Linked DNA regions of Homo sapiens: regions 1 and 3 are each linked to region 2. The links come from fine-mapping of genetic effects on gene expression. A gene starts in region 2. Each other region holds a variant in brackets. All regions are shown on one strand. Distances are from middle to middle. Region 1 holds the start of LINC02020 (long intergenic non-protein coding RNA 2020). Region 2 holds the start of DGKG (diacylglycerol kinase gamma). Region 3 overlaps DGKG (diacylglycerol kinase gamma).

What was found. PIP is the estimated chance that this variant, and not a neighbour inherited with it, causes the effect.
Region 1: its variant is the best candidate, but not a certain one, in a credible set for the expression of DGKG in tibial artery (GTEx, PIP 0.88).
Region 3: its variant is the best candidate, but not a certain one, in a credible set for the expression of DGKG in monocytes (Quach 2016, PIP 0.61).

Annotation. Positions count from the first base shown.
Region 1 is chr3:186,431,716-186,441,812 of GRCh38, forward strand. LINC02020 (long intergenic non-protein coding RNA 2020) reads left to right here and starts at 8,630. Exons shown (of 4, transcript NR_151710.1): 1 at 8,630-8,733; 2 at 9,267-9,406. The variant C/T (reference allele first, on the strand shown) is at 5,104.
Region 2 is chr3:186,356,552-186,366,648 of GRCh38, forward strand. It overlaps DGKG (diacylglycerol kinase gamma), which reads right to left and starts at 5,683. Exons shown (of 25, transcript NM_001346.3): 1 at 5,395-5,683. RefSeq lists an enhancer at 4,451-4,968 and a silencer at 5,753-5,842.
Region 3 is chr3:186,230,448-186,240,544 of GRCh38, forward strand. All of the region lies in intron 20 of DGKG (diacylglycerol kinase gamma), which reads right to left. Among named protein-coding and RNA genes, the nearest start is that of ETV5, 130 kb to the left of the region's middle. The variant C/T (reference allele first, on the strand shown) is at 5,593.

The DNA of each region.
Region 1 (10,097 bases), 75 kb after region 2:
CAAATGATCCTCCCACCACAGTCTCCTGAATAGCTGCGGTTATAGGCATGAGGCACCACACCGAGCAGCAAAAGCTGTTGTAGTGGGGAAAAAGGTGGCAGGCTGTGAGCAGAAATTTCCAAGTGACTACAGGAAGTCCCTAAATTTTATTGTTGTACATTTATCTGTTCATTTGAAGCTTTGTAAAAATTGTCTCTATCTTGGCTCTCACATTTTTTGTGCCCTCATTTTGAACTCTCTGTCCCTAAGTAATATCAAACAGGTTTAAGCAGTCAAAGTATCTGAGATGCTGGTACTTGGCAGTATCTTAAACAGAAGGAGGCAGCAGGTTGGAGAGAAGGAGGAGCTCTCCTGAAAACTGTAATCACAATTATGTGAGCACCTACTATGTGCTAGACCCTATTCAAAGGCAGAGGAAACTGACCCATGGGATGGATACGCTGTAAAGAATTCCAACACCAGCCCTGCAAGGTAAGTTAATAGTTATGCTAACTGCTGTAACAAATCCAAAGTCTCAGTGACTTCACAAAACTTAATTCTAGTTCATGTCACAGTCCACTGAGTCAAGCAGCTCTCCCGAGCAGCTGTCTTCCAGGCAGTAGCCCAGAGATCCAGGCTCCTTCTATCACGTGGCTCTGCCATCTCAGAAGCTTTCACTTCCAGCCATGGCCTCGGGGAGAGAAAGAACATGATTAGTCAAACTGGGGTTTTATGACCAAGTCTGAAATTGGTATTTGTCACATCACTTGATTACATTAGCCGGAATTAATCATATGGCCCCAAACTAACTGTAAGAGAGACTGGGAAATGTGGCTTTCCTTGATGCCAGGAAGAGATCAGTGAGCCTCTGGCCAGAATCTGCCAGTATTGCTGTAGTCACTCCTTTACTGATAAAGAAATGGAGGCTCAGAAGACAGCAACTTACCCAAGGGTCAAGCAGCTGAAGTGGCAGCATTGGGACTCAGCTTAGGTATGCTTGGCCCTAAAGCCCATGTTCTTTCCATTATACATCTACCTCTGCAATCAGCTCATAGGCATCCCCCATAAGCCACACAGAAGGGAAGAACATGTCAGCCTAAGCTCACTGCCCAAGCCTTTGTCTGCATACTTCTTCTGATTTATAACTGACGGACTGTAGTTCAGATCTGACCATCTGAGCAAGCCCCATTGAGGCTGGGACACTCTACCAAAGAACCAGACTCCCCTCCTCCTGTGGGGGTTCTCTCATTTATGCAGGTTTTCTTTAATGTCTCCCAATAGTGTTTTGTGGCTTTCTGGGTATGGATCCTGCACATCTTTCGTCAAATCTACTCCTAAGTGCTTCAAATATTTTGAGACATTGTAAACAGTATTTTTAAATTTTAATTTCTATAATATAGAAATAAAGTAGATTTGTGTATATTAATTGTGTATTGTGCAACACTGTTAAACTCATGTATTAGTTATAGCAGCTGTTTGTAGATTGCATTCTTTCTACATGAATGATCATGTCGCCTGCAAATAAGAACAGTTTTATTTCTCCTTTTCCAATATGGATAACCTTATTTCTCTGTCTTGCCTGATGGCCCCAGATAAAACCTCCCATATGTTGTTGAATAGGGATGGGGAGAGCCAACATCCTTGTTTTGTTCCTGGTACTAGGGAAAAAGCATTTAATACGATGTTAGTTTTAGGTATTTTGTACACAGCCTCTATCAGGTGGAGGGAGTTCCTTTCTATTCCTAGTTTTCTAAGAGGTTTTTTTTTTAAAATCAGGAATGTGTTTAGATTTTGTCAAATGGCTTTTCTGCATCCATTGAGATGATCACACGTCGCTGTTGTTGTAATCTGTTACTATGGCAAATTACATTGTTGATTCTTGAGTGTTCAACCAACCCAGTACTATTCAACTTGCGTAAATCCCACTTGGTCATAATGTATTGTCCTTTTTATATATTGTTGGTTATTTGGTAAAATTTTGTTTCAAATTGTTGCATCAATTTTCATGAAGGATATTGGTCTATAGTTTTCTTACAGTGTCTTTGTCTAGTTTTGGTTTCAGGGCGATGCTGGCTTTAATGAGAATGAGTGGGGGACTATTTTCCTCTCCACAATATTGTAGAAGAATTAATGTAGAATTGGCATTATTTCTACATTAAATGTTTAGTACAGTCCTATCTTGAATGCTCTTCTATATATTCTGTGGGCTCTGAAACTTGGGGCAACACACGCCTGCTGGGGTTTTGCCTGTCTTTCTCTTTGAAGGCAGAATACTGTTTCCATCCTTCAGCCCTGGAAGGATAAAGGAAATGTGGAAATGGTTAAAGATGAGGGACAGGAGTGGGGGCATGATATCTCAATGCATCCTTTAAAAACAAAAGGTGAAATTCATGTAACATACAATTAACCGTTTTAAAGTGTTTCATTCAGTGGCATTTATTACATTCACAATGCTATACAACCACTACCACTAGCTAGTTGTAAACATTTTCATTATCCCAGAAGAAAATCTCATACTCGCTACGCAGCCACTCCCTATTCTCTCCTCCCGCTAGCTCCTGGCAACTCCTAATCTGCTTTCTGACTCTGTGGCTTTACCCATTCTGGATATTTCGTATCACTGGAATCACACAATATGTGACCTTTTGTGTCTGGCTTTTTTCACTTAGCATGATATTTTAAAATTTCACATATAGTGTAGCATGTATCAGTACTTCATTCCTTTCTATGGCTGAGTAATAATCCATGGTACTTAGATACCACGTTTTGCTTGTTCATTCATCACTTGATGAACATTTGCATTGTGTCCACCTTTTGGCTATCAAGAAGGGTGCTGCTATGAACACTCATGTGTAAGTATGTGTTTCAGCACCTGTTTGCAGCTCTTTGGGGTACACATCTAGGAGTGGAATTGCTGGATTGCATGGCAATTCTGTTTAGCTTTTTGAGGAATCACCAAATTGTCTTCCACAGTGGATGCACCATTTGATATTCCCATCAGTAATGTGTGAGGGTTCCAATTTCTCCATATTCTTGCCAACACATTTTTTAAATTAGAAATTTTTTTATTGTGACTATCCTAGTGGGTGTTTTTTTGTTGTTGTTTTTTGTTTTTTTTTTTAGGATAATAAGTCCTTTATTCTTTTCTTTTTCTTTCTTTTTTTTAAAATTTTTTTAGTATTTATTGATCATTCTTGGGTGTTTCTCGGAGAGGGGGATTTGGCAGGGTCATAGGACAATAGTGGAGGGAAGGTCAGCAGATAAACATGTGAACAAACGTCTCTGGTTTTCCTAGGCAGAGGACCCTGCCGCCTTCCGCAGTGTTTGTGTCCCTGGGTACTTGAGATTAGGGAGTGGTGCCTTCAAGCATCTGTTTAACAAAGCACATCTTGCACCACTCTTAATCCATTTAACCCTTAGTGGACACAGCACATGTTTCAGAGAGCACGGGGTTGGGGGTAAGGTTATAGATTAACAGCATCCCAAGGCAGAAGAATTTTTCTTAGTACAGAACAAAATGGAGTCTCCTATGTCTACTTCTTTCTACACAGACACAGTAACAATCTGATCTCTCCTTCTTTTCCCCACATTTCCCCCTTTTCTATTCGACAAAACCGCCATCGTCATCATGGCCCGTTCTCAATGAGCTGTTGGGTACACATCACAGACGGGGTGGCGGTGGGGCAGAGGCGCCCCCCACCTCCCAGACGGGGCGGCCGCCGGGCGGGGGCTGCCCCCTACCTCCCGGATGGGGCGGTTGCCGGGCGGAGGGGCTCCTCACTTCTCAGACGGGGCAGCCGGTCAGAGATGCTCCTCACCTCCCAGACGGGGTGGCGGCGGGGCAGAGACACTCCTCAGTTCCCAGACGGGGTTGCGGCCGGGCAGAGGCGCTCCTCACATCTCAGAAGGGGCAGCGGGGCAGAGGCGCTCCCCACATCCCAGACGATGGGCAGCCAGGCAGAGACGATCCTCACTTCCTAGACGGGATGGCGGCCGGGAAGAGGCGCTCCTCACTTCCCAGACTGGGCCGCCAGGCAGAGGGGCTCCTCACATCCCAGACGATGGGCGGCCAGGCAGAGACGCTCCTCACTTCCTAGACGGGCCGGCAGCCGGGCAGAGTCTGCAATCTCGGCACTTTGGGAGGCCAAGGCAGGCGGCTGGGAGGTGGAGGTTGTAGCGAGCTGAGATCACGCCACTGCACTCCAGCCTGGGCAGCATTGAGCACTGAGTGAGCAAGACTCCGTCTGCCATTCCAGCACCTCGGGAGGCCGAGGCGAGCAGATCACTCGAGGTCAGGAGCTGGAGACCAGCCCGGCCAACACGGCGAAACCCCGTCTCCACCAAAAAAATATGAAAACCAGTCAGGCGTGGCGGCGCGCGCCTGCAATCCCAGGCACTCGGCAGGCTGAGGCAGGAGAATCAGGCAGGGAGGTTGCAGTGAGTGGAGATGGCAGCAGTCCAGTCCAGCCTCTGCTGGGCATCAGAGGGAGACGGTGCAAAGAGGGAGAGGGAGGTGGAGGGGGAGAGGGAGAGGCAGAGGCCTAGTGGGTGTTAAGTGGTATCTCATTGTGGTTTTGATTTGCATTTCCCTATGGATTAATGATGTTGAGCATCTTTTCATGTGCATGTTGGCCATTGGTATATCTTCTTGGAGGAAATGTCAATTTAAGTCATTTTCCCATTTTCAAAACCGGATTTTTAAAAATCTTTTTGCTGTTGACTTTTATGCATTCCTTGTATATTCTAGATATTAGGCCCTTATCAGATATATAATTTGCAAGTATTTTCTCCCATTCTATAGGTTGACTTTTCACTTTCATTTTTAACTTTCAGCATGACTTTATTTTTTTAATCAACAAATTTTAAAAATAGTATATATTTATGGTGTACAACATGCTTTTAACATATGTATACATTGTGAAATGGCTAAATCCAGCTGTTTAACATATGCATTACCTTCCCTACTTATCATTTTTGTGATGAAAACACTTAAAATGTACGCTCTTAGCAATTTTCAGATATATAATATATTGTTATTAACTGTAGTCACCAGGATGTGGAATAAATCTCTTGAATTTATTCCTCCTGTTTAATTGAAATTTTCTTCTTTCACCAATATCTTTT[C/T]ACTTTCTCCATAATGTTTGTGATATATAAAAGTTTAATTTTTTTTTTTGAGATGGAGTCTCACTCTGTAGCCCAGGCTGGAGTGCAGTGGTTCCATCTCGGCTCACTGCAACCTCCGCCTCCTGGGTTCAAGCAATTCTCTCACCTTAGCCTCCTGAGTAGCTGGGATTACAGGTGGATGCCACCACACCCGGCTAGTTTTTTTATTTTTAGTAGAGATGGGGTTTCACCACGTTGGCCAGGCTGGTCTTGAACTCCTGACTTCAAGTGATCCTCCCACCTTGGCCTCCCAAAGTTCAATTTATCTATGCTTTTTATTGTTGTTGCTCACACTTTGGATGGCATATCTAATAATCCATTGCCAAATCCAAGGTGATGAAGATTGGCCCATGTTTTCTTCTAAGAACTTTACAGTTTGAACTCTTACATTTAGTTTGTTAATCCATTTGGAGTTTTGTATACGGTATGAGGTGGGGGTGTCCAATTTTATTCCTTTGCATGTGTCTCAGCACTTAATGCATATTTTTATATCATTTTGCTTTTTGTTTAAACTATAGGAATATATTAACTATCAAAATTTAAAAATATATTTTTAAATGGGAAAAAAATAATCTTTGTTAAAAGAGGAGCAAATTGATAGTGAGGCTAAGATGATGATCTGTAGAGCAGGACTGCCTGGACTGGAAGCTTGGCTTCTCCACAAGCAAGCTGATTGATCTTGGGCATGTTATTTAATCTTTCTGTGCCTCAGTTTACTCACATATGAAATTAAATAACAATAGTGCATACTTCACAAAGTTATTATGGGAATTAAGTGAATTAACACATTTAAAGTATATAGTTGTTAGTAAGCCCTATACAAATGTTTTTTAAATAATTAAATAAATAAATTTTGAAATTTCAGATACTCCAACCATTGTGTCCATTGCTTAGGCACCAAGTTTTCTGGAGAAGCAGGGCCTGAGTGTAAGGAACCAGAAGAAAAAGTACTGAAAGTTGTCAGTAGCATACTGTGAGATGAAAAACCCAGTTTTCTTTTTTTTTTTTTTTTTGAGATGGAGTCTCGCTTTGTCACCCAGGCTGGAGTGCAGTGGCACAGTCTCAGCCCACTGCAAGCTCCGCCTCTGGGATTCACCCCATTCTCCTGCCTCAGCCTCCCGAGTAGCTGGGACTATAGGCATCCGCCACCATGTCTGGCTATTTTTTTTTTTTGTATTTTTAGTAGAGATGGGGTTTCGCCATGTTAGCCAGGATGGTCTCGATCTCCTGACTTCGTGATCCACCCACCTCGGCCTCCCAAAGTGCTGGTATTACAGGCGTGAGCCACTGCGCCCGGCCTGAAAAACCCAGTCTTCTATCCCAATTCCCTGACACAGAGATGCCATTGGTCCTCGCAAGAAGGGCTTCCACCCTGGGCCTGTGCTTTAGTGGGCTCCACGTAAACACAAACACACAACAAAACATATTTACAAAGAAACACATGGCTGCCTCTGTTACTGGCGCAGTGTAACCCATAACCTTAACATCCACCGCACAACTCACGTAGGGAAGCGTGTCTTCACAACCCTTGCCCTATGTTCTTGAAACAAAGGACACAGTGTTCAGATGATGGGACAAAAGGACACCGTGTTCAGATGATGGGAAGGTGTGTGGGCTGTGCTGCTGCTACCACTGAGTCTTATCAAAAGATATGTGGGGAACATTTTTAATGACAGAAGTGCCCATATAAGAGAAAAGACACGTTGATTAACTTGTGAAATCTCTCTGTTTCAGCATTTTGTATAATGAAGTATCGATTTCCAGTAGTGCTAAATATCCATTTTCTTTCTTCTTTTTGTGTGCCAATTCATGGTTTCAAAGATTCTCACAAATTAGTGCACTATTCAAAACAATTGCACAAGATGCCTGGGGAACATTTTGCAATATTAAACATTTCACATCACTTTTAAATGTGTGTGTGTATTTATGGAAGTTTGATAATGATTCTTTACATTGGCAACTAGATGGACATTGAACATGAAAATTGCAAATAGTTTTAATTGTATAAAAATTAATAATATTTAATTAAAACTTAAAAATTAAATAAAAGGTTTTTCAGCTTTATTTAAATATTTTATTAAAACACTGGTATTCATTCACTATCATTTAGATTGTATCACTAAACAATCATTTTGAAAATTTTAGAAAAACTTATGGAAAATATATATAAAAATAATTTTAGTTTTTTATCTTTCATATTTACCGCAATTATATTTTTATTAAGTATACTCAATTTGGTATAATTTCAATGCAATTATATCTTAATTTTTAATACTTTAGATCAGTGCAACTTAATACAGTTATATGTCGCTTTGTGACAGATATGTCCTAAGAAATGCATTGTGAGGCAATTCCATCATTGCACAAACATTATGGAGTGTACTTACATAAACCTTGAGTGTAGTCTACTGCACACCTGGGCAATATGGTATAGCGTATTGCTCCTAGGCTGCCAACCTGCACAGCATGTTATTGTACTGAACAATGTAGGCAATGTAACGCAATGATATTTGTGTATCTAAACATACCTAAATGCAGAAATGCTGCAGTAGATATACAACATAAAAGATTGTTTTTAAGTCCACCTGTAGAAGGCACTTACCATGAATTGAACTTGCAGGCTTGGAAATATCTCTGGGTGAGTCAGTGAGTGAGTGGTGAGTGAGTGTGAAGGTCTAGGACATTACTGTATTCTACTCTATGCTTTATAAATACTGTCCATTAGAAGACACTAAATTTATTTTAAAATACTTTTATTTCTTCAGTAACAAATTAACCTTACCTTACTCTCTTTTACTTTATAAACTTTTAAATTTTTTTAAAACGTTTTGACTATTTAGTAATGACACTTGGCTTAAAACACAAACATTGTAGAGCGGAACAAAAATATTTTATTTCTTTATATCCTTACTTTATAAGCTTTTCTCTATTTTTGAAATTTTTAATTTTTACTTCTTAAACTTTTTTGTTAAAAACGAAGACACAAATACACACATTAGCCTAGGCCTACACGGGGTCAGAATCATCAGGATCACTGTCTTCCGCCTCCCCTCCTGTCCCACTGGAAGGTCTTCAGGGGCAATAACAAGCGTGGAGCTTCATTTCCTCTGATAACAATGCCTTCTTCTCGAATCCTTCCTGGAGGACCTGTCTGAGGATGTTTTCCAGCTAGCTTTTTTTTCATAAGTAGAAAGAGTACACTAAAATAACAGCAAAAAGTATAGTAGATACATAAACCAGTACCATAGTCATTTATTATCAAGTATTATGTACTATACATAACTGGATGTGCTATACTTTTATTATACAACTGGCAGAGCAGTCAATTTGTTTACCCCAGCATAACCACATACATGTAAGTAATGCATTACACTATGATGTTACCATGGCTACACTATCACTAGGTAATAGGAATTTTTCAGCTCTATTAGAATCCGATGGGACCACCATTGTATATGTGGTCTGCCATTGGCTGAAGCATCATTATTTGGTGCATGACTGTAGAACTTTAAGCAATGATGAAAATGCTCTATATCCACACTATCCAATATGGTAACCACTAGCCACTTGTGACTACTGAGTGTCTGAAAGGTGACTGGTACAACTGGGGAACTGAATTTTAAATTTTCTATAATTTAAATTAAAACAGCCACATTTATTTTATGGCTATTATATTGTATCCTATATCATATCATATTTATATATCATATCATATGTTACATGGTATATCATATTACAAATGCAGCTTTAGATCATTACTTTCCCTAGAACACAAATTACATGAAAATCTTGAGTACAATGACATAGTTACTGATTTTGCCAGGATAAAGGAAAAAGTAAATGTTATTTAAAAAGCATATAATTTATGAATTATTAATATCTTCATTGATTATTCATCCAAACACCACAGGCCCATCAACAGAATTCCCAGTATATGCGATAATAATTATGTTCAGTCATCGTTGACGTTTTGCCAGCTTTCAGTCAATTAGAAACTTTGAACTTTACTCGTATTTTTCTATCTAATCATTATGAAGATATATTTGTCAAGGAAGGAGAATAGAAAGCATGTTGTTCAACTCTTTGTGATTTAGAACTGTTAAATATAGTCATATGATATGCAGGTTCTGCTTGAATTCTTGCCCTGGCTCTTGGTGAAGGATCGGCCTGCTGGATCTGAGTCATCCACCTATAAGAGGGACAACACCACACATTGGTCGCTGCTCTCAAGCCCCTGGAATACCACCCCACTTGGCTTCTCCTGGTAACAGTGGCTGCCTTTGCTTGCCTGTCTCCAACTCCTCCCAAGAGCATTGCTGACTGTGAGCTGTACCTTTGAATCTGCAGGGGCCCTTCCCATCTGTCTAATATTTGCTATCAGTGAAACAGAAAAACCCTTGGGACACTGTCAGGGAGCATTCTGGCCCGCAAAATGCCTACCAACCACCATGCCGTTCTCATTCTTGCCATTAGCAACCTTCTCTTTCTCTACATCATCAGCGTCCTATGTGCACTCATTCTAGAGGGCCAATAATTCTCACAGATTACCAGTGTAGACTTAAATTATTTTTATTATAATATCACAGTACAAGTAAAAAGTATATGGCTGTGGTTTTTGTTCAGTTATAAAGTTCAAATAAACTTTCTAGATTAAATACAAACAAACTACAACACTGATCAAAATAAAAGCAGCAACATTAATTTAATGTGGCAATGTCTTGTGGAAAGCAAATTGCCAGTGTTGAAACAGTAGAAAGTTCTTAATGTTGGTTTTTTACTGGTTGTATTTCCGCATTTTAAATTTAGTAACACTTAACACAGAGAATGCTGTATATAAAATCATATATATATATATACATACAAAATCATGGTCCACTGCAGCCTTGAACTCCTGAGCTCAAGTGATCCTCCTGCCTCAGCCTTTGGAGTAGCTGGGACTACAGGCACATGCCACC
Region 2 (10,097 bases):
AAGAGTTTTAATAGAAATAGGAAATAGAATGAGGAGGTGGTAATTTCAGTCTTCTCCATGCTGATTAGGACTCCCTTGAAATTTTGCACTTTATTCTTTAAGAATAAAGAAATTAGAGAAAACTAGGACAAGAGTGATGATAATAATAGTGAGGGCACTGGAGCAAATGGCCCATGAGGTAGGGTGGAGCAGTGAAAAGGGCGTTGGCCAGGGATTTGAGAGCCAAGTTACCCCATTAATAGGTTGCGAGATCTTAAGAGCTGGTTCAGGACTCCCTGAGGAGAAGCACAGACTATGGTGGTTGACTGGTCTGCTCTTGTAGGTTTTTGGTTCCCCGCCCTTTTCCCCCTTCTCTTCCAGGGGAGGAGATGGGGCCAGCATCCACCAACTCCCATCAGTAGGAGAGGGGAGAGTTGCTGGCTTCTGGGTTCTTTCCTCGCAGAGGCTCATGCATGCACAGCCTGGGCCTCTGGGAGTGTCCAGGTTGGAGGGATCCTCGCCATCTGTTGATGGTGTTGTGTGGGGAGTTGGAGCAGTTGGGGGAGCTGGAACAGATGATCTTAGTAGTTACTCCCATCTCTGAGAGTCTAGATTTCAAGACACGCTGAAATCAGGTCAGGCCACACTATGGATGGGTTCCTTTCTCCCTCCTTCACCCATCCAGGGACAGGTTCTCTTAAGACCCTGAGCAAAATTTTGCACTCTTGATATGTGATTCAGAGTCATAAATTATACCCATTGTTTCTCTTGGAAAGCTTTCAAAAGTCCCCTTTCTGTGATTTCCCAGGAAGCCAAGATGGTGGCAATCCTAATCCACATCACAACACACAGCAGTTATTGAGGCAGTAAAGCAAAAGGTCCAAGAAAAAAAGAGAAGATAAATAAAGAGAAAAGGCTTTGAAATCATATAGACCTGAGTTTCAATCTCAGTCTCTCCTATCAGCTTTGTGACCATAGGCAAATTACTGAAACTTTCTGAGACTCAGTTTCCTTATCTGTGAGATGGGGTTAATACCAGGAGTGTAGTGATGTGAATATCAGGTGAAGCTATGCGTGCACAGAACATAGCCCAATGTGGGACTCAGAGTCGGTGCCCAGTAAGTGCTATTGCTAATATTACCACAACATTTACTACCACCATCCCTCCTTTATCTTTCTCTCCCTCATCTCTTCGGGGCTAGGCACTGTGCTAGTGCAGAGGATACAGTGGAAAACGAGACAGACATAGACACACACTTTGCTTGCACCAAGCTTACACTGTAGCACAGTCCAGTTAAACTTTTTGCAATGATGGAAATCTTTTAAATGTGCATTCTCCAATATGATAGCCAGAAATCACATGCTGCATGTAAGCACTAGCAATGTGACTGGTGTGACCGAGGAACTGAATTTTAAATTTCATTTAATTTTAATGAACTAAAGTTAAACAGGAAATAGTCACATGTGAAAACAGACAGCACAGCTCTAGACACCTTTCAGGTATATTTCTGGGACTGACTAGCCTGAGCAGAATAAAGGTATGCTGAAAGAGAAATGCACGTAAAGCATCCAGTACAGGACCTGGAAAATTCTCTTATTCGTTCATTCGTCACATTTAATTGTTGACTATGGATTGGCACTATCTCAGGTGCTGGGGATACAGAAAAGGATTAGACATGGTCTCTGCCTTCAGGGGGCTCATAGTTCAGTGGGAGATATGCAAATAGTGACTTCGCCATAGCGAGGTAAGCTTACGCACAGGTGCTGTGGATTCAGGACATCTCTAGGGTGGGCTTCCCTGAAGGATGTTTCCGGACCTGAGCTGAATCTTGCATAAATTGATCTCAGAGTGGGAGCAACAACAGATTATATTCCAGGGCTACTAAACCCACTGCTGGTGGCAGAGGTGGCTTGGAGATCAACGAGGCTCTAGGAACAACTCATAGCTAGGGCCAGTTTGTTTTCTTCTAACCCTTTGTGTGTGTGTGTGTGTGTTTTGTATTGCCTAATTCAATCTCTCTTCTGCCAGCCACATTTTGTTTCCACCTGAGGACATTTTTTTTAAATGATGGGTATAACTTTATTTTTAAATTGTTTTATTACTATTAATAGTTACTAGCCTTGATTTCTTTTTTTTTTTTAGTCAGACAAACTCTGTTACTTATAAAGTGACATCAGCTCTCACTATGGTTGGGTGTGGAATTCTGATACTTGGTACAAATAAACAACTCTTTGAATATGGCCAGTATGTGAGGAAGCTGTTGCTGATGGGTTAAGCTTGCTGAACCTGGCTGTGATCATGATGCACGTTCACAAGAGTGAATGTTGTTATAATGACTTGTATGGAGAAGTGGGACATTATACACATTTGTATATTTTACATGATGGTTTGATTTGTTCAAAGTTAGTATGTGACATTTAGCTAGAGAATTCTGCAGCTGATACTTGCTCACATAAAAATAGGTATAGCTTTATGTTGTATGGTTTCCATAATCCCTCCCGAGTGTATAAAGCAAGGTGATATGTGTGATTCCTTCTTCCATGAGACTGAAGAATGCTCGTGTGATGTGGCTTGGTCGTGTGAGGCCTTGGCCTATTTGGATTCCTAAAGGTCATCTGCTTGAACTATGGCCGAGTTGTTTCTGGTGAATGGAATCCTAAATTAGTGTACCCTTTTTGAAAAGTGGCTTCTCATATATACTGTGAGCCTTAAAACATTCATGCCCTTTGGCCTGGTGATCTATTTCTAGGCATCTATCCAAAGGAAGTAATGGGAAGTGTGTGCAGTAAAGACTTTGCCCAGAGTTATTTGTAGTTGCTAAAGACAGGAAGCAACTTAAATAACTAACAGTGTAATAATATGCAGCCAGGAAAACAATGTTCATGAAGGTCTTTTGCTACAACACTAATTCAGAAAAAAGCAGAGAACCAATAGCTACAGGGGCTCAGCAACCATACTTTTGAGTCAGACAGCCTGGGTTTGAATCTTGATTCTGCCACATACTAGCTATGTAACTTGGGCAAGTCACCTGAAGTCTTAGAACCCTAGAAAAATGCAACCCTAGAAAAATGGGATTGATAGTAATAACACCTCAGAGGGACTCCTGAGGATTAAAGGATATAATGAATATAAAATTTAACACCATGCAAAGTATACTTATTAGGCACCCAATAAATGCTGGCTCTCTATGGATTGTATAATTTCGAGGCATAAAAACAGATGGAAAGGAAATATGCCAGTATATTAACAGTGTGGGATGGGAGTGGTAGGATCATGGGTGATTGATTTGTTCTTTGCATACTTTTCAACTTCCCAATTTTTAGGCAATGAACATGAATTACTTTTATACTAAAAGAGTACATTATAATGATGTAATACAATAAGATATACATTTTAAAAGTTTTAAAGTTTTACCACAAAGAAAAGGTACTTCCCCGCCCTTTTCCCCCTTCTCTTCCAGGGGAGGAGATGGGGCCAGCATCCACCAACTCCCATCAGTAGGAGAGGGGAGAGTTGCTGGCTTCTGGGTTCTTTCCTCGCAGAGGCTCACACATGCACAGCCTGGGCCTCTGGGAGTGTCCGGGTTGGAGGGATCCTCACCATCTGTTGATGGTGTTGTGTGGGGAGTTGGAGCAGTTGGGGGAGCTGGAACAGATGATCTTAGTAGTTACTCCCATCTCTGAGAGTCTAGATTTCAAGACACGCTGATGTTTGTCGTTTTCTCCCCATGTCTCGGTTGATCTGAACCAACCACTCCATAAAATTCTAAGGTAGGAAAGACTCATCTACTAGCTTCCCACCCTAAAGCCCCTCCCAGAAAAATACCTGTAGTAATGCCTATAGTGCTGGGTGTAAACGTTAAGGGTGATTGGCAAAAAAGACATAGATCAGGAGTACGACCGGGAAGTTGGCTTAGTTGCAGCCGTTTTATTTAAGGAGTATAATTCATATTCGGAATGGAATCTCCAGCAAATGTAGTCTTTTAATATGACAAACAGTTAAGTACCTTCCCATGTTAGACACATGCCTGGAATGAGAGTGAGAGGGACATAAAATATAAAGGGGTGTGTGTCTGTGCCTGGGTTCATGACCAAACCTCGACATTTGCCCTCTATGATCTAATTTCCTTCATTGACAACCAGGGTGCCCTGTGTGCCAGCAAGTGGCTCTGCCAGCTGTATTTTACAGACAGAGAATCCCAAGCACCAAAATAACAAAGTTGATTCCCCCATCCAGACCAGAGGGGTCGTTTCCAGTCCTGTGTCCTGACCACTGTCTCTCATCATGACCCCTGGTGTTCACCTCCAGATCCAAAGTGTCGTCGCCAAGCCCCCAAAATAAAGGAATGACAAACAGCCCTCCCAGGCCCTCCTCCCCACAGAGAGGTCATCGTATGCTAATGAAGTCCGAGGAGGCAGCGGCGCAGCGCGGGAGAGCGCGCCCACGGGTTCACAGCGCTCCCGGGCACCACTGCGGCGCAGCCACAGATCGCTTCGCGCTGCAGCAGACGCTCCCGCCGCGGGGGGCGACTGGGGGAGGGGTCTCGACCGCCACCCTGAGTTCCGCAGCTCATCCCTCCCATCTGGGAGGTGGTTCTAGCTCTAGTCCCAAGCTTTCCACTGCAGTGATGGTGGGGATGGGGGCAGCACGTCAAATCACCTGTAGGGCTTTTTAGAACTCCACAGCCCCCTCCCCTAATTCTATTCCACTAGTTCAAACGAAGAAAATCTCAGACTAGGCAAGGGGAGGTGGACCGGTGGAGTCTGCGAAAGCACCACAGGTGACTCCGGGTACGCACTCCTCAGGACACAAGCACACACACGGACACATCTTGTGACTCTGAGACTACACAGATCAACCTCAGATTCGACCCTTCCCTCCTTTATTCTCTGAGGTGTCCGTGTTCGCTTCAGCTTCCCTTTAAGTCGCCCTGCGCAGGGGCTTTGTGGAGTGCCCCCAAAGTCCTAGAACCCCGCGGGACGGTCGGAGGCTTTGGCGGCCAGACATTAGGAAAAGCATCTCCTGCTTCTCGGACTGCCTGGAGCGCGAACTGGATATCAAGGAGCCAAGGTTAAGTCCAGAAGAAGAAGGAAATCCGACCAGTTGCTTTAGCAAACTGCCTGGAGCAAGGCCGCCTCCCACCCGCACAGCTTTGAGGCTTGAGGGGGCCTCTCAGTCGCAGAGAGAGCCGAGCCCCACCCTGTGCGTTCCCCAAGCCTGCACCCCTCGAGCGGGGCATCCCTTCCTGCAGGGCTTTGTGGCAGGTGGAACTGTCGGGGTGGGCGCCGTGGCTTTGGCTGCAGCCCCTTCCCTGGCCGCGGGACCGGCTCCCGCTTTGCCCTCCTTTACCAAGTTGCTGCACCGGGTGCTCCCTGAGCCGGGGACCCCCTCCGCCGCGCCGGCCGCCGTCTTACCTCACCAGGCAACACTTGGTTGCGCGGTGGCCCGGGGCGCTCCTTCTTCGCGGTTTATTCCCTTACTTGGGAGGAAAGAGGAACCGAGAGACAGAAGGGGGACCGAAGCTGGCCTCTGGGCGTCTTCCCGCCTGCGCAGCCCTCTCGGGGGAGGGGGATGCAGCCCCAGTGGGTGCCGCGGAGACCAGGCTGCCAGGCTGTGGTTGGTAGCGCCGGGGTCTTCACCCTGTGCTCGGAGTTCAGCAGCTCCAAAGCTGTCTATCTCCGTGGCCCGCTACTACGGCACTGCGGCTCTGTGCCCTGCCCCTCGCAGCCTGGCAAGTCCAGCTGCCACTCTCACTGCGGAGCCCTGCCCCCGGGCGCAGAGCCCGCCCCCGCCACACACACCGGCGCGCGCGCGTACACACACGGCACACACAGACACGCGCTTCCACACATGCACACGCGTGCGCACACACGAATGTGGATCCGCTCGATGGGAACCTGACCCCCTTTGGTGCAACTAGGGCGCGGGCATCATTAGGACGCTTTTTACTGACAGGGCTTCGGTTTGGGAGGAGGAGTTACAGGCTTAGGAGTGTGGAGAGGATGCAACAGTGGTGGGTACCAGAGGGCCCCTGACCCCGGAGGCAAAGGACAACTGTTTGACAAATAAATACCGACTGGGCGTTTCCTTTTCTCAACTCTGGTCAAGGCTACCGTAATATCCCGACCAAATCGAAGAAAAAATAAAAATACAAAATCAACAAGTTCTCTTTGTTTCCCAGGAACTCAGTATCTCTAGGATCCAAATCACTAGCCCTGTCCAGAGGGTCATTTCTGACAACCTTGACTTCGGTGGCAGTGGATTGGTGGCAGTTCAACTCGAAAAGGTTTTCCCCTCGTAGCCTGGTGGAGACTGGCACAGCCTGCCTGAGCTGGACTCTGTTGGATGGGTCGGGTCTCTGGGTGTGTTTAATTCCCATTCTCCTTTGCTTTTAGGTGACCTTGGACTGTATTCCTGCAGAATAAATAGATCTCTTCTTTTTTTAAAATGTAGAAGAGCACAGAAAAGACGCTGGGGTGAGGGGTCGGGGGGAATAGGGGAGCTACATTAGCCAAGGCACTATGACTTGTTGCTTCTCTTTCCATGACGTGCATGTCCACGTGAGGGGGTGATGGTGGTGGTGACACTATTTCAGGCATGTCACACAGCAAGATGACTGCTGTCCATTTCACACCACATTTAGAGTCATTAGGAGTTTAGACTGTCATCTTTAAAATATGTGGAGTTTACTCATTTCCACAGCCGAGAATTCTTTTCTGCCAGTGGGCAGTGAAGGTCCCCGGGCCAGCACTGCAGCCAAGAAAAGCTTTCCGCAGAGTGTGGAGGCGCCGAGGGGCTCTGGGTGTCTGTGCATTTGGGGAAGAAGCCTCAAACACGAATGTCAAACAGCCCTGAGGACCCTGTTGGGTGGTGTCCATACTAGGCTATCTGCAGGCAGGCTGGTGAGACAGATGAGAAACAGAGCTGAGAGATCTCCTTAAGATTCCACACAGTGATGAAGACAGAGCTGATACCAGAACCCCGTGTTTGCGACTCCTCTTATCCTCTGGGTCTTATCCATTCTATCACCCTGGGTGGCTTCTCAAAGTTTCCTTCAGCTAGGCTGAAATAATCTTGGTGAGGGTGCCTTCAAAGTTCTTCCTTGTCCTTTCTTTTTTTCCTCTTCAGTCACTGACTCATTCATTTTACAGCTATTTATTAAACTCCTACTCTGTCTTCAGGTGCTTCCCCGTAACTCCAGTCCTGGGCCTTACTTGGGAGGAAAGAAGAACTGAGAGACAGAAAGGGCTTAGAACTGTCCTCATCCCTGGAAGAGAGGAGCCCTGAGCACAGGTTTCTGGTATATATTTTCACTCTGCTAGGTTGCATGGATGTGGAAGACACAATCCTTGCTTTTTTTGACTGCATGCTCAATGGAGGAAAATGCACATACATGTCACAAGAAAAACATTCTGGCTGTCTATTCTTGACTCCTTCTAAAGAAGGCTAAACTGAAGGAGACCCTGTGTTTGGCTGAGCATCATAATGGACTTGGGGTACATGTTTGCAAATAGGTGTTAGGACAACATTGAGTTGCTCTGCCTATTAGGACAGGAAGGAAATAAATTGAATGGAACAAATGAAGAAGACATGCAGAGACTGAGTGTGGAGCCTTAGCTTCGTTGAGAGCACATTGGGGAAGGGTAACGAGAGGGGAGGAGCTCTGAGGACAGGGTTGCCAAGCAACTTGCCTGAGAACAGGCAACAGGGTTGCCAAGTTGTCCAGGGATTTGGACAGGGGAGATGCTTGCAAAGATTGGTAAGTAGTTTGCTGTGGGGTGGGCTATGAAAGCCCCCGGTCCTATGAAAGAAATCATTTGTAAAGTCAATATTGTTCATCGGTTTGCTTGCAAATGGATTCCTTTAGGATCAGGATGGAGCCAAATGATGCATCTGAGTTGCTGCAGAAGGAGTTCAGAGAAGGCTGTGTGGACTGAGTTACATGCTAATAACATGGAGGAAAAGGGTGGTAGTAGAGGCTGAAGCAATGTGGAAGGCAAAGAGGGATGGGGCGGGAAGAAGCACCAAGAACAATTAGTGCTAATGGAGGCATCATGGAGGAGGTAGGGTTTGCGATCGGATTTTAAAGGGGAATAGAGATCTCACTTAAAGATCAACAGGACAAGGGCAATCTAGGCTGGGAGAAAGCAAAAGCAGAGACGTAGGACAATTCATGGTGAGTTCTGGGTCTTCCCAGCACAAGAAAAGAAGGCTGGGACAGTATTGTGGGAGTCTCCAAATGCTCTTCTGGGAGCATAGACTTGGGTTCCACAGTGAGGAGCTATGGCAGGTGTGGATTTTTTGTTGTTTGTTTTTGATGGGAAATGAGCTGGGAAGCAAGCTGGGAAGTATCTGATGCCAGCTTTCCCAAGGTAGGCCTTCCCCATCAGAATGGAGCACTGTGGGGAGGGAGTCCTTGTTGCTGCTCTCACGAAGAGCCAGAGCCCAGGTGGCTTATGTGGCTTGCTGCAGAGGGCACCCAGCTAAGGGGCTGAAATCCAACTCATGCCCCACTTGCCCAGCCACACAACCTGTTAGGGTTATGTCTGCCTGGAGGGAGGGATGCCTTTTCTCTAATTTGCATGGGCTGACAGAGGCCCTGCAACTGAGCTCTTTATTTGAAAAGGCTGAAGCTACGGTGAAACAAGTGAGGATTTATTGGGCATTTGCTGTATGTGCAAACATAAGGTAAAGCAGAAAGAGTCTTGAGGTCAGGACTATCTGTGAGTCTGAGCATGTCTCTGCTCTGTGGTGACACCCTGAGACTTACTGTAGGGTACAGAGGAGGAAGCTTAGTGCCTCTCCTCAAAGATTTTGCAATCCATGTCAGTTATAAAACAAACGCTCCACTGGTTAAGAAACAGTGAACGACAGTATGGAATCAAGTGCCAAATTGCACAGGGCAGATTCTCAGGGCTTGAGAAAGGAGACCTCCTCTGGGCTGAAAGAGTCAAGGCAGGCTTCATGGAGGAGGAGGGCTGGGTTTGGCAGTGGAGCATGTGTATGTTGGTTCTCAGCCAGAGAAAAGACCTGCGAACAAAAAGCCAGAGGAAACGAAGCTGGGGGCTTCTAAGCATGGATTTTTAGCCGCCACAGCCACCCTAATGCCATTCCCAATTGTAGCCCAAGCGCTGTGATGAGTCACCCTTGTTTCTGAGAGACGGGGCATTTTTGGATGTTTAACTGGTTCAACACTTTACATTCCCTGAGACTTCAATGTTGGCAGCTCACACTCACCATGTTGCTCTGGGAACACATCATCCAAGCCAGCAGCTGATGCCTGATCTCCACTGCCAAGGCAAAGCGAGGGCTGAGTCAGGTACCTGTGTCTGGAAATTTTTAGTCCCACTGTCTCTGACAAGCTGAGCGAACAGCACTTGACAGTTGGAGCACAGCTGAGTTCAGGGTCACCAACCGCAAGGTGGGCCGGGGGGGTTCTGCTCGCCTTCTTAGGCCTCACTTTTCCCATGTACAGAACACAAAGGATTATACCAGATTATCTCCAAGCTGTCTTCCACCTAATATTTTATGATCTCATAATTAATGGAATCTTTCCATGTTATCAAGCAATGACAGGATGGGAACAGATACTAGCCAAGTCCGAACCTTAACTTTCCTCTTGGTTTTGACTGTGAAGGCTGTGGTGGAGTGAGACTGTGGGTTGGAAACAGGAGAACCAGGAGCTCCTGGTCACAGTTTTGCCATGAATGGGATTTGGGATCCAGCCCTGGGAATGTAGGCAGGAGATTCCCTCATTTTAGTTTTCTTAGAAAATAAGGAGGCTGGAAATGGTCCCTACAACCCTTTCTGGCACTGATACTCTGTTAAGTACTAGCAACTGAACAACTTTTAAGTACCGCCCCCTTGCCTGGGTGGGGCCCTCCACAAGGCAAGCTGGGAAAATTCTCACAATATCAACTGATAAGCTTGAAGGAAAGCACAAAGGAGAAGCCATGGGGTTCAGAATAATAAATAGATAATTTAGAATTAGATGGAGTCAAAAGAGCTAATCTGAGTCTCTAAGCTCCAATTTCCTCTTCTGCAAAGTGGGGATAGTAATACATGCATCTCAAGGTAATGATTAAATGAAGAAGCTTATTTGAAAGTGTTTTAGAAG
Region 3 (10,097 bases), 130 kb before region 2:
ATGAGAGCAGCTGTGTGGGGAAGGTGAGAGTAACAGAGCAAGCAAGCAAGAAGGTGAGGCTGGTGTTTGAGGAGGAGAATGTTATAAAGGGCGCTAAATGCAAGCATGGGATGTAACGTGGGAGGGGGGTGGTGGAAGTAGGTGCTTGTGCAGCAGCAACAGGACCACAAACGTGTCCCAGGGAGACTAATGGGCAGCTCCAGGCAGGGTGGGCCTGAATGGGAAGGGCATCGAGATGGGCCAGAGGGTGGCTGAGGAAATCCTGAGGATGGAACATCTTGGGGACCAACTGGGAAGTGAGGAGCACAGGAGGCAAGCGGTCTCACAAGTAAATAAAATTGTGCAATTAAACTGTGCAGCTTGGTCAGTTGTGGAGTGGGAGGCAGAAAGCTCCCATCTGGGTGGGGACCTGGTGGGTGCAATGAGTACACTGCTGGGCTCAGAGAAGGTGGTGTGTTTATCATCCTGGATGAATGCAACTCTCTGTTTTTGGAAGCCTTTGCAAGAGATTCCAAAACTACTCTCAATAACTCATTTCAGTCTTTAATATGTCTCCAGGCCAGAAGATTCCTGCTCCCATCCAAAAGAGAATTCTTTACTTTTAGAGCACATTTTTTCCCTCTCTCATTCTTTCCTGAACTGAGATGAAGAGTAAGGAGGTGCAGTCACTATTTCCTGTTGTGAATCCTTCACACACTTGAGGCCCATTCCCAGTACGTTCTCTGTTTCTCTCCAGGAAAAGTGATTTTGGATAACTTGTGGTTTTCTCATGGGCCCTTTAATCATATCTATGGCTCTTTTCTAGTCTTTTTTTGGGTGCATCTTTGGTCATGGGGCACAAAACTGGGCACATGGAGAGGCAGGGAATTGTAGCAGGCTAAGAGGAGATGTGGAGTGGACAGGCCTAGGTGTGAATCGTAGCTTCTCTAGTAACTAGTGTGGTCTTGAGCAAGTTGCATCATCTCTATGAGCCTCACTTTTCTCATCTGTAAGATGGATCAATAATACTTACACTTGGTGAGTTGTGCCACTTAAAAATAATGTACATGAGATTCTTGAAAGCTCTCAATAAATGATGGCTACTATTGTTGGTATGGGTTGGAGCAGGACTGATTACATTGGGAAAACCACCTTTCTAAACACTTTAATAAATGAGCTCATGGTTATTCATGCTTTAAAAACTATACTAGGCCAGGTGTGGTCACTCACGCCTGTAATCCCAGCACTTTGGGAAGCCTAGGTGGTTGGATCAACTGAGGTCAGGAGTTTGAGACCAGCCTGGCCAACATGGTGAAACCCGCTCTCTACTAAAAATACAAAAAAATTAGCTGGGCATGGTGGCGCGCACCTGTAATCCCAGCTAATCAGGAGGCTGAGGCAGGAGAATTGCTTGAACCCTGAAGGCGGCCATGTCAGTGAGCCGAGATAGAGCCACTGACTCCAGCCTGGGTGACAGAGAGAGAGACTCCGTCTCAAAAAAACAAAAATAAAAACAAAAACTATACTACTGCATAGTTCAGACAGCAACTCTTGCTATCTCTGGTGGTCAAATAAAACACAAACTGGTTCTTTTGAGATACAGCAAAACTATAGACAGGACCCAGAATCGTGTTGAAAGGATAAAATATTTTTCATTTACCCTGCACGATAGTAGAGCTGCATAACATCTGAAATAGTTATTTCAATTGTGAAGGGACTTGGGTAATGGTATCTTTAAAACACTCAATGACTGAACAAAAGCGTTGGGACTTTTTAATTGGAAAAGGCCAATAAAACTCCTACAGCAGATGAACTCACTCCATTCAGCTCCTTTCTATCACCTTCCCTTCATAACCTATAAATGCTACTATGTTAATGTTTTAAACTAGTGTCTAGAGCATGATCTCAAGTCAATAAAATTGTGCAATTAAAATGCTGAAAGAAAATATGTTATAGCGCTGAGTGTTTATTTCTTGGAGGAGGGGATGCAAAATATGATTTTTTTTACAATGAGCCTGAATGACTTATATAAAGAAAAATTAGTTTAAAAATGATATGTATAGCTTTATAAAAACACATTATCACAAATATTTTAAGGTATATCTATCAAGTTAACTGCTGTAATGCACCAAAATGGCAATATTGTGTTTCTCCATGATGGGAATATGAGTGATTGGTTTTTTTTCTCTTACTTTAACTTTTCTGAACTTTCCAAATTATTTATAATGATATTGCAATGTGCTATATAATAACACTGTCTGATGTATTATTTAATTACATGATAAATGTATTGATATTTTATTGAAAAACGTTTAAACAAGATAAATGATGAGAAAAATAATTCCATATATTTCTACATTGATGACTTACACCCTATTTAATATTAAATAGATGTTTATCTGCCTATATTAGAGAATCACCAAAATTCAGAGTCTTAATGGCTTCTGAATCATCTAACATGGTTATTATCTGATGTAGGATCTGTCTTTGTAATAAGAATATTAATAACAATCATAATAGCTACCACTGATGTGCCCGACTCTGTAATAGACACTTTAAATGCATTGTTCCAATAGATCCTCGAAATAAGCCTATGAGGCTAGTAGGTGGAACAATGCCCTGAAGATGTCCACGTTCTGATCCCCAGAGCCTGTGAGTATGTTAGGTTACGTGGCAAAGGGGCGAAGGGGGAATTAAGGTTGCAGATAGAGTTTAAGTTGCCAGTCAATTGACCTTGAGATGGGGAGAGGATCCTGAATTTTCTGGGTGGGTTCAGTGCAATCAGCGTTCTCATAAGTGGAAGAGGGAGGCAGGAGAAAGAATGTCAGGGGGACGCCATATGAGAAGGACTCGACTGGCCACTGCTGGCTTCAACAATGGGAGGGGGCCAGGAGCCAAAGAGTGGTGACACCTGGAAAAGGCAAGGAAACAGCTTTTCCCCCAGACTCTCCAGAAAGGAATGTAGCCCTGATGGCACCTTGATTTTAGCCCGGTGACACCTATTTCAGACTTCCAACCTCCAGAACTGTAACACAGCAGTGCCGTTTTTGTCGTTGTTGTTGTTGTTTTTTGAGACGGAGTCTCGCTCTGTCGCCCAGGCTGGACTGCAGTGGCGCGATCTCGGCTCACTGCAAGCTCCGCCTCCCGGGTTCACGCCATTCTCCTGCCTCAGCCTCCCGAGTAGCTGGGACTACAGGCGCCCACCACCACGCCTGGCTAATTTTGTTTTCGTATTTTTAGTAGAGATGGGGTTTCACCGTGTCAGCCAGGATAGTCTCGATCTCCTGACCTCGTGATCCGCCTGCCTCGGCCTCCCAAAGTGCTGGGATTACAGGCGTGAGCCACCACGCCCAGCCAGTAGTGTTGTTTTAAGCCACTAAGTTTGTGGCAGTTCATGACAGCAACAACAGGAAACTCACATAATATTATACCTCAGTTTTACAGGTGAGCCGACTGAGGTTCAGGGAGAGTAACTTGGTCAAGGTCACACATAGTGGTTAATGAGAACTCCAGGATTTGAATCCAGGTTGTATGATAATGGAACCTTTCCTACTGGGCACTTGCTTCCAAAATCATTGCCAGCATGGGCTTGAACGTAAAATAGGAAAACTCATCACCTTCTCCAATAGCTCACTGCACTTGAGGATGGCTCTGACCAGTAGAATTAATGTCCTATTTGGGGCTTAACCCAGTCTTGCATTCCAGTCACCTTTTCATTGATTAATTGTGCAAAATAACACAATTCCTGCTTTATACGAAAAGCCTTTTAAATATTTGAGGCCAATGATCACTTCTCTCTAAGGCTTCTCTTCTTTGGGTGAAACAATTCCAGATTCAGCCTTTTGCTCGAAGACATCTAAAGTTCCAGCACCTTCTCAACCTCTCCCTTCTGGAAAGCATCCAGACTGTCAACACTCACGTTAGGATCCAGCCAGTTCCTACCTTACTTTGAATTTGTGTGCTTTGATTTTCTTCCATAAGGTTATCGTGCTAACCTCAACTCTTGTGAACTGATTACACATTACATCTTGAGTTCTTTGATGGAAATATTTCTAGAAATCAATCAGTCAGTAAATACTGATAACTTTGGGATTATCTGGCCTATAGTCTTGAAAACATAGCGTGCTTTCAAGTTCCTTCTGATATGATCACAAACCGATTCTACTCTTTGTTGACATGAATAAGACCTTTCCTGTTCTAGCCTAGCAGGGGCTACAAGAAAAAGCCCATTAAGCTACAGAAAGAAACGGTTCTGGCCAGTGGGTAACCTTGTAGGGAGGCTTGAGACGCCACAGGCTGCTGCTGTGTAACAGTCTGAGAGGTTGTGCTGTCTGTTCCCACGCGGACTAGGGACCCAGGAGGAAAATGAAAGGATTGTTAAGAGTCAGTGTGATTTCATCATATTATTTAAAATACTACGAATGTTAGGGCAGGGAGAACTGCATACAAATATTAATAACAGACTCCCAAAATCTTTGATCATCCACCACTGTAGATGATCCACGTGGTTGCTCCCTTTTTTCTGCGAATAATCAAGAGTTAACTATAAACAATCCAACAACAACAACAAAAAACCCTGGACTTCTGCATTTGTGTAACGTTGAGCACCTGATGAAAAAAACATGAACCCATATTTCATTCATTTTACTCTCTGCATCTCTCCCAAAGAGAGGTGGGGAGGGTGGGGGACAAAACATTTTTGTGGCTTAGTATATAAACATTCAAGTAATTAAGTCAGTTGCTCTGTCAGAATTGACTTGAAAATCAAAGGTTCTTGAGCACAAAACATAAGGTTTGTATTTCTTTATAAATACCTACAGGAATAAGAAAAAACACAGAAAATCCCACAATTAATTTCATTTGGGGCTTTTCTGAATCCCAGATATTTAAGAAAAATAGTTTGCTATATTGAGGGAAGCAGGTGCAGACAGTCTGGACCTCTGGCTACCTACAGCAGGTCTCTTTTGAGGTGCCAAATATTAGATGAAGAGAGGCAAAGCCTAATTCAGGGCACAGAATGAAGACTTTGATGGCAAGGATTTTTAACTTTGCTATATTTGCTGCTGTTGAACCTTTATGCCTTGAGAAAGTCACACATCTGGGTTGTAATAGTGGGCTACCTCACAGGGCGCCAGGAAAGAATAACTTAGAAGGGTTTCATTTTTAGATATAAGAAGAAAATCTTATGTAAATCATGATATATTTTATGCTTGTGACGGCAGAGCATACTGCAGGTATTCAAGAGAGGAAGCCCTTCCTTTCATTTTCAGAACTGTGTGACTTGAGCTTTGTCGGTTTCTATTTTGTTCCCCACAGAACATCTCTGTCTTTATCTGAGGTCAGGGTTGGGGAGAGGTACGTGGTGGGTGAGGGGAAAGAAGTATCCGTGAGGGAGGGTTAGTCACATCCCCAGCATCTGACCACAGGGCCACTTGCCTACCTGCCATGCAGTCCATGACCCCTGCTAGTAAGCCAGAAGCACCCAGGGAGCACATGGAATCTGTCCTGCCACTCTCCTTTACTCACTCCTGCCCTGTTCCTCCTGAGGCCATTTCACCTGGGGTCTATGACCCCCTCCCTTGATCCTGCTAGCCTGGATTTGGCACTGGACTT[C/T]GAATCTCTAGTGTCCAGATCCCCAACCTCTGCCTCTTGGACTTCCATGGAGCCAGTGAAGGGGATTTCCTCTAGAGCTTCTGTCCTGTAGAATCCAAACCAACCAAAGTGGTGCCATATTCCCACCCCCAGGAGAAGGATTTGGGCAGATTCAATGCATCACTGCTGGGGTCTCCTCCAACTTTTAGTTGTCCTCCAACTTTTCAGGTTAAAGGCCATGTCAATGGAGCATTGATTCTGTGATAACTGAATCCAATTTGTCACTCCATTAAAAACAACCCTTTTATTGTCAATACTTTATCGTCAATTTAAGGCAATGCTTGTTATTCAATGATATTCAACAACAAATGTTTATTGCGAACCTCCTGTGTACTATGAACTTAGGTATTATGTCACTAAATACTTATAGCAACATTGCAAGATTTTCAAAAGAGGCAGCAAAGGATTAAGAAGATTAACTTGCCCAAGGTCACATAGCTAATAAGCGGCAAAGCCAAGTTTTGATGCCAACTTACTCTATACCCTGCTGCCTTCTTCTATAAATAGTTACTAAGTGCTTAGTTATTTACAAGGTATATTTCCAACCTCTTAAAAACTCAAGCTACATTAGGGCTTCTGGGGAGCCCCTCATCAGTGACTCCATGGGACCTGCTCCAAGAAAGCTAATATTTCAGAACCTGTTAATTAGTCAAGGGCTTTTGAGAAAGGTGGTCAGCTTCTAGTAGGAATGAAGCACTGCTTCGGTCCCTCTGAAGGGCCTAACAGGAAATAACTTGCTTCAGCCTCAACTGCTGAGAGACGCGGTCAAGTGGATACACTCAACAGGTTTAGAATAACACATTCCGCAAGTACTCTGAGTTTCTAACCAACAATGAAAACATTCCACAGTTAGACTTCTCTTTCTAGACACTCACTGACAGTGACATTAGAATTAGGTGGCTTTTATGTATAGATTTCATATGCAAAACCCTTCATGGAGACTTAATCTGGAAACTTCATGGTGGGCTGGTTTTTGGCTATCTGGAAGACTTTGACGGGATTCTTGGCTCCTCTGCTAGTACTGATTGCTGCCTGTTTGTGGGACTGAGAGTCCCTCTCCTTCTCCCTAAGTTGAAACCCTCTTTCCTCCATTCTTTTGACTTTATTGCAAACACCCTACTCTGTGACTACTGGCAAAAGTGTCTTCTTTTTATTAATTCCTCTGTCCTTGCCAGGGCCACCTCATAGGTGTGAGATGTGGACTCCAGGGCCCCACACTTAAGAGGGCTCAGTGCTTAGTTTAATGCTTTGCTGTCCCATTTTTGAGGAAGGGGCCTCACATTTTTAATTTTGCACTGGGTCACACAGATCATACAGCCAGTCCTGCTCCTTGCTGTGGACGTGGAAACAGGGAGAATGCTCACACCATACAAGGTATGACTGGATGGTGTACCTGTTCTCCTCCCCTTTGGAACTCAGCAGGCATTTTCCCACAGAGACAATCCATAAAGGCAGATGATGCCAATGACAGCTCCATCCTCCTTAGCCTCAGTTCCTTCATTTCTAAAATGGGGACAGTAGCACTTACCCTTGCATGTTATTGTGAGCAATGAGTGGGATGATGTATAAAGTACTTATCAGAGTGTCTGGTATACATCAGTGCTTGCTCAATGAAATCTATGTGAGACAGCAGTTGCGGCAAACAGAGCTTGGACTCTGGAGTGAAGAGCTAGGTCAGAAATTAAATTAGCCCCACTGCCTAAAAAATACATGACTTTTGTTAGTTGACTTGGTTTCTTCCAGTGTCAGTTCCTTTATCTGTAAATGGGAATGCTAATATTTATCTTGAAAGGTTGTTTTGTGATTTAAATAATTTAATGTATTTAAAGACCCTAGTTCACCACTTGGCATCTAGGAGGAGCTAAAAAAATGAAAACAGTTCTTAGTCAGGTTCCCCTTTAACACTATTGCTACACCTAAAACAACCAATTTGGCCAGGAGTGGTGGCTCACACCTGTAATCCCAGCACTTTCGGAGGCCATGGCAGGCAAATCACTTGAGGTCAGGAGTTCAAGACCAGGCTTGCTGACATGGTGAAACCCCATCTCTACTAAAAATAGGAAGAAAAGTTAGCCAGGCGTGGTGGTGTGTGCCTTTAATCCCACCTACTCAGGAGGCTGTGTAGGAAAATCACCTGAACCTGAGAGGCAAAGGTTGCAGTGAGCCAAGATCACACCACTGCACTCCAGGCCAGGTGACAGAATGACTCTTTCTAAAAAAAAAAAAAAAAAAAAAAAGACCAAAAACATCCCCCAAAAAGAAAACAATCCATTTGCAAATGATGTTTGGGATATGACCATTAATAAGTTCTTACATATTATACGACTTCCTGTATACTATATCACCTATGAAATGTAACCACCTTGTATGTTAAAATAATTTTGTAAAGAATACTTGAGCACTATTTTTCCTTTTCTTTTGCTAGACGACGATTTCCTTGAAGGCAGGGGCCACATCTTATGTGCCCTTTATTCCAGATCACTTTCAAACACTTTAGAATCTCAGTTGAATCAAATTTCTCTTTTGTTCTTTATGCCAACAGTGAGACGATAATCTCCCTAACATTCCTCAATTAGCAATTAATGATTAGCCTATTGATAACTAGGAGGTAGACAGGGCCAAAAATAACCCCATCTCTGCCGTTAAAGGCCTTTTCTTTTTTGCCCATCATACATGGCTCGTATTCCTGCCTCCTCGGTTCTGGTTCTTGCTCCATTAATGAAACTATTCCATCAGAGAACATAACTTGGTTTTCTGGAACCCACTATCTTCCCTGGCAACAACCCATCTAGAGAGGCCATGGAGGAAGAATTTCCTGAAACCCCAACATTTGAGTCATAATTTGATGCCTCTTAGGATTCAAAGAGGCCTCAGACCTGTGACTTTTAAACATTTTGGGAGTATAGGTTCCTTTAAGAATCTTCTGATAGTTATGGACATTCTCTGCAGAAAAATACATTCAGTACCTTAGTACAATTTCAAGGTGTTCTCAAAACCCCTGAAGCCCTTGGATCCCAGGTTAAGAATTCTTGTTAGAATAGCCAAGAAAAGGGAATCAGCAACGTGAATGATTCCGGTTTCCTGGTAAGTGTTCCGGACCTGACTAGTCACTCTCCCTTGCTGAAAACAAAACAAAACAGAACAAAACACAGCAATGACAACTCCCAAGATTTAACCTCAAGATTATCCCTGAGAGTCCAAACCTGGGCAGTAATGGTAAAGGCTTCCGGCCAAGCAGTAACTACTCTTTGGAGAACCTCAGTTCAGCTGAGTAAAATAGGCCTTGTTTGATAATGCCGTTTACATTTCCAAATCCTGGGTATCAAGCTTTCTTCCTATGCCTTGCGGCCTTTCCTAAGTTTAGCCGCTGGTGTAATGGGGTAACCATGGCAACAACCACCTGCCTATTTAAAACCATCTCCAATGCTAAATAAGGAAGCCTGAAGAAAATGGCTGCTTGCCTGCCTCTCAGTGGACAAATTGGGCACTCCTGGGTATTTTAGACATGGGCGAATAGGCAGGGTAGAAGCAGTATGTATGCAAAGTTCTTCATAGGAAGCGTTCGGTGACCTTGTGAAATAGGTGCTACCTCAGCCCTTCTGTCTTCGTTTGTTAGGCGAGCACGCAGGTTTACGTGCAAATCCGTGGGCCTGTCACCATGTCATCCATGCTACCTTGACCTCAGTCAGGTGAAGAGTGAGCTGAGAACCTACCCTCAGAGAGAAGTATTGTTTATAGGATCTCGGAAGGGAGAAGGAAAAACAGTTCTACAGATCACAGTGAATTTGTTCATACTTTGCATTAAAATGCACGCTACAATCTTTTTTTTTTTTTTTTTCTGACGGATGTGTCTTTCTAATTGTACTTAATCATGTGGGTGATGGATGATTGCTCTATTTATGTCATATGTTGGCCTGCCTATTGATTTTTGGCATATGGAGAAATTTCTCCCTCCCTCTGCTTCCTTGCTTTCTGGGAATTACAGATGTTTGGTTTCTTTCCTCTGCCGAGACCATACAACTGATCACACTGAACATCTTGCTCTTCCACAAGTATACTGCACCCTCTCACTCCTTCGTATCTTTTCGTACATTTGCTTCCTTCTCCCTGTGTTGCCCTCCTCTTTTTCCGTGTCTTGGTTCAGGCGTCTCTGTCATTGGAAAACCCTCCATGCCACGTTTCGTGTCCTTGGTTTTTGCTCCCATAGGTCACCTCCAGTTACATCACTTAACACAAACCATTCTGCACATCTGCTTTCCAGCCTGTTTCCAGCACCAGGCTGTGAGTCCCCTACATGCGTCTGTCCAAAATGCCTGTAGAACAGTGTCTGGTGTGCATTACGTTTTCAAAAGATCTGCTGAATGAATGGATGAATGAATGAACAGAGCCCCGTGGCTTTCACAAGCATATGGCACATGTGCATGAGTACGTATAAGGATACTTGTGTGAGGCCGGGTGCAGTGGCT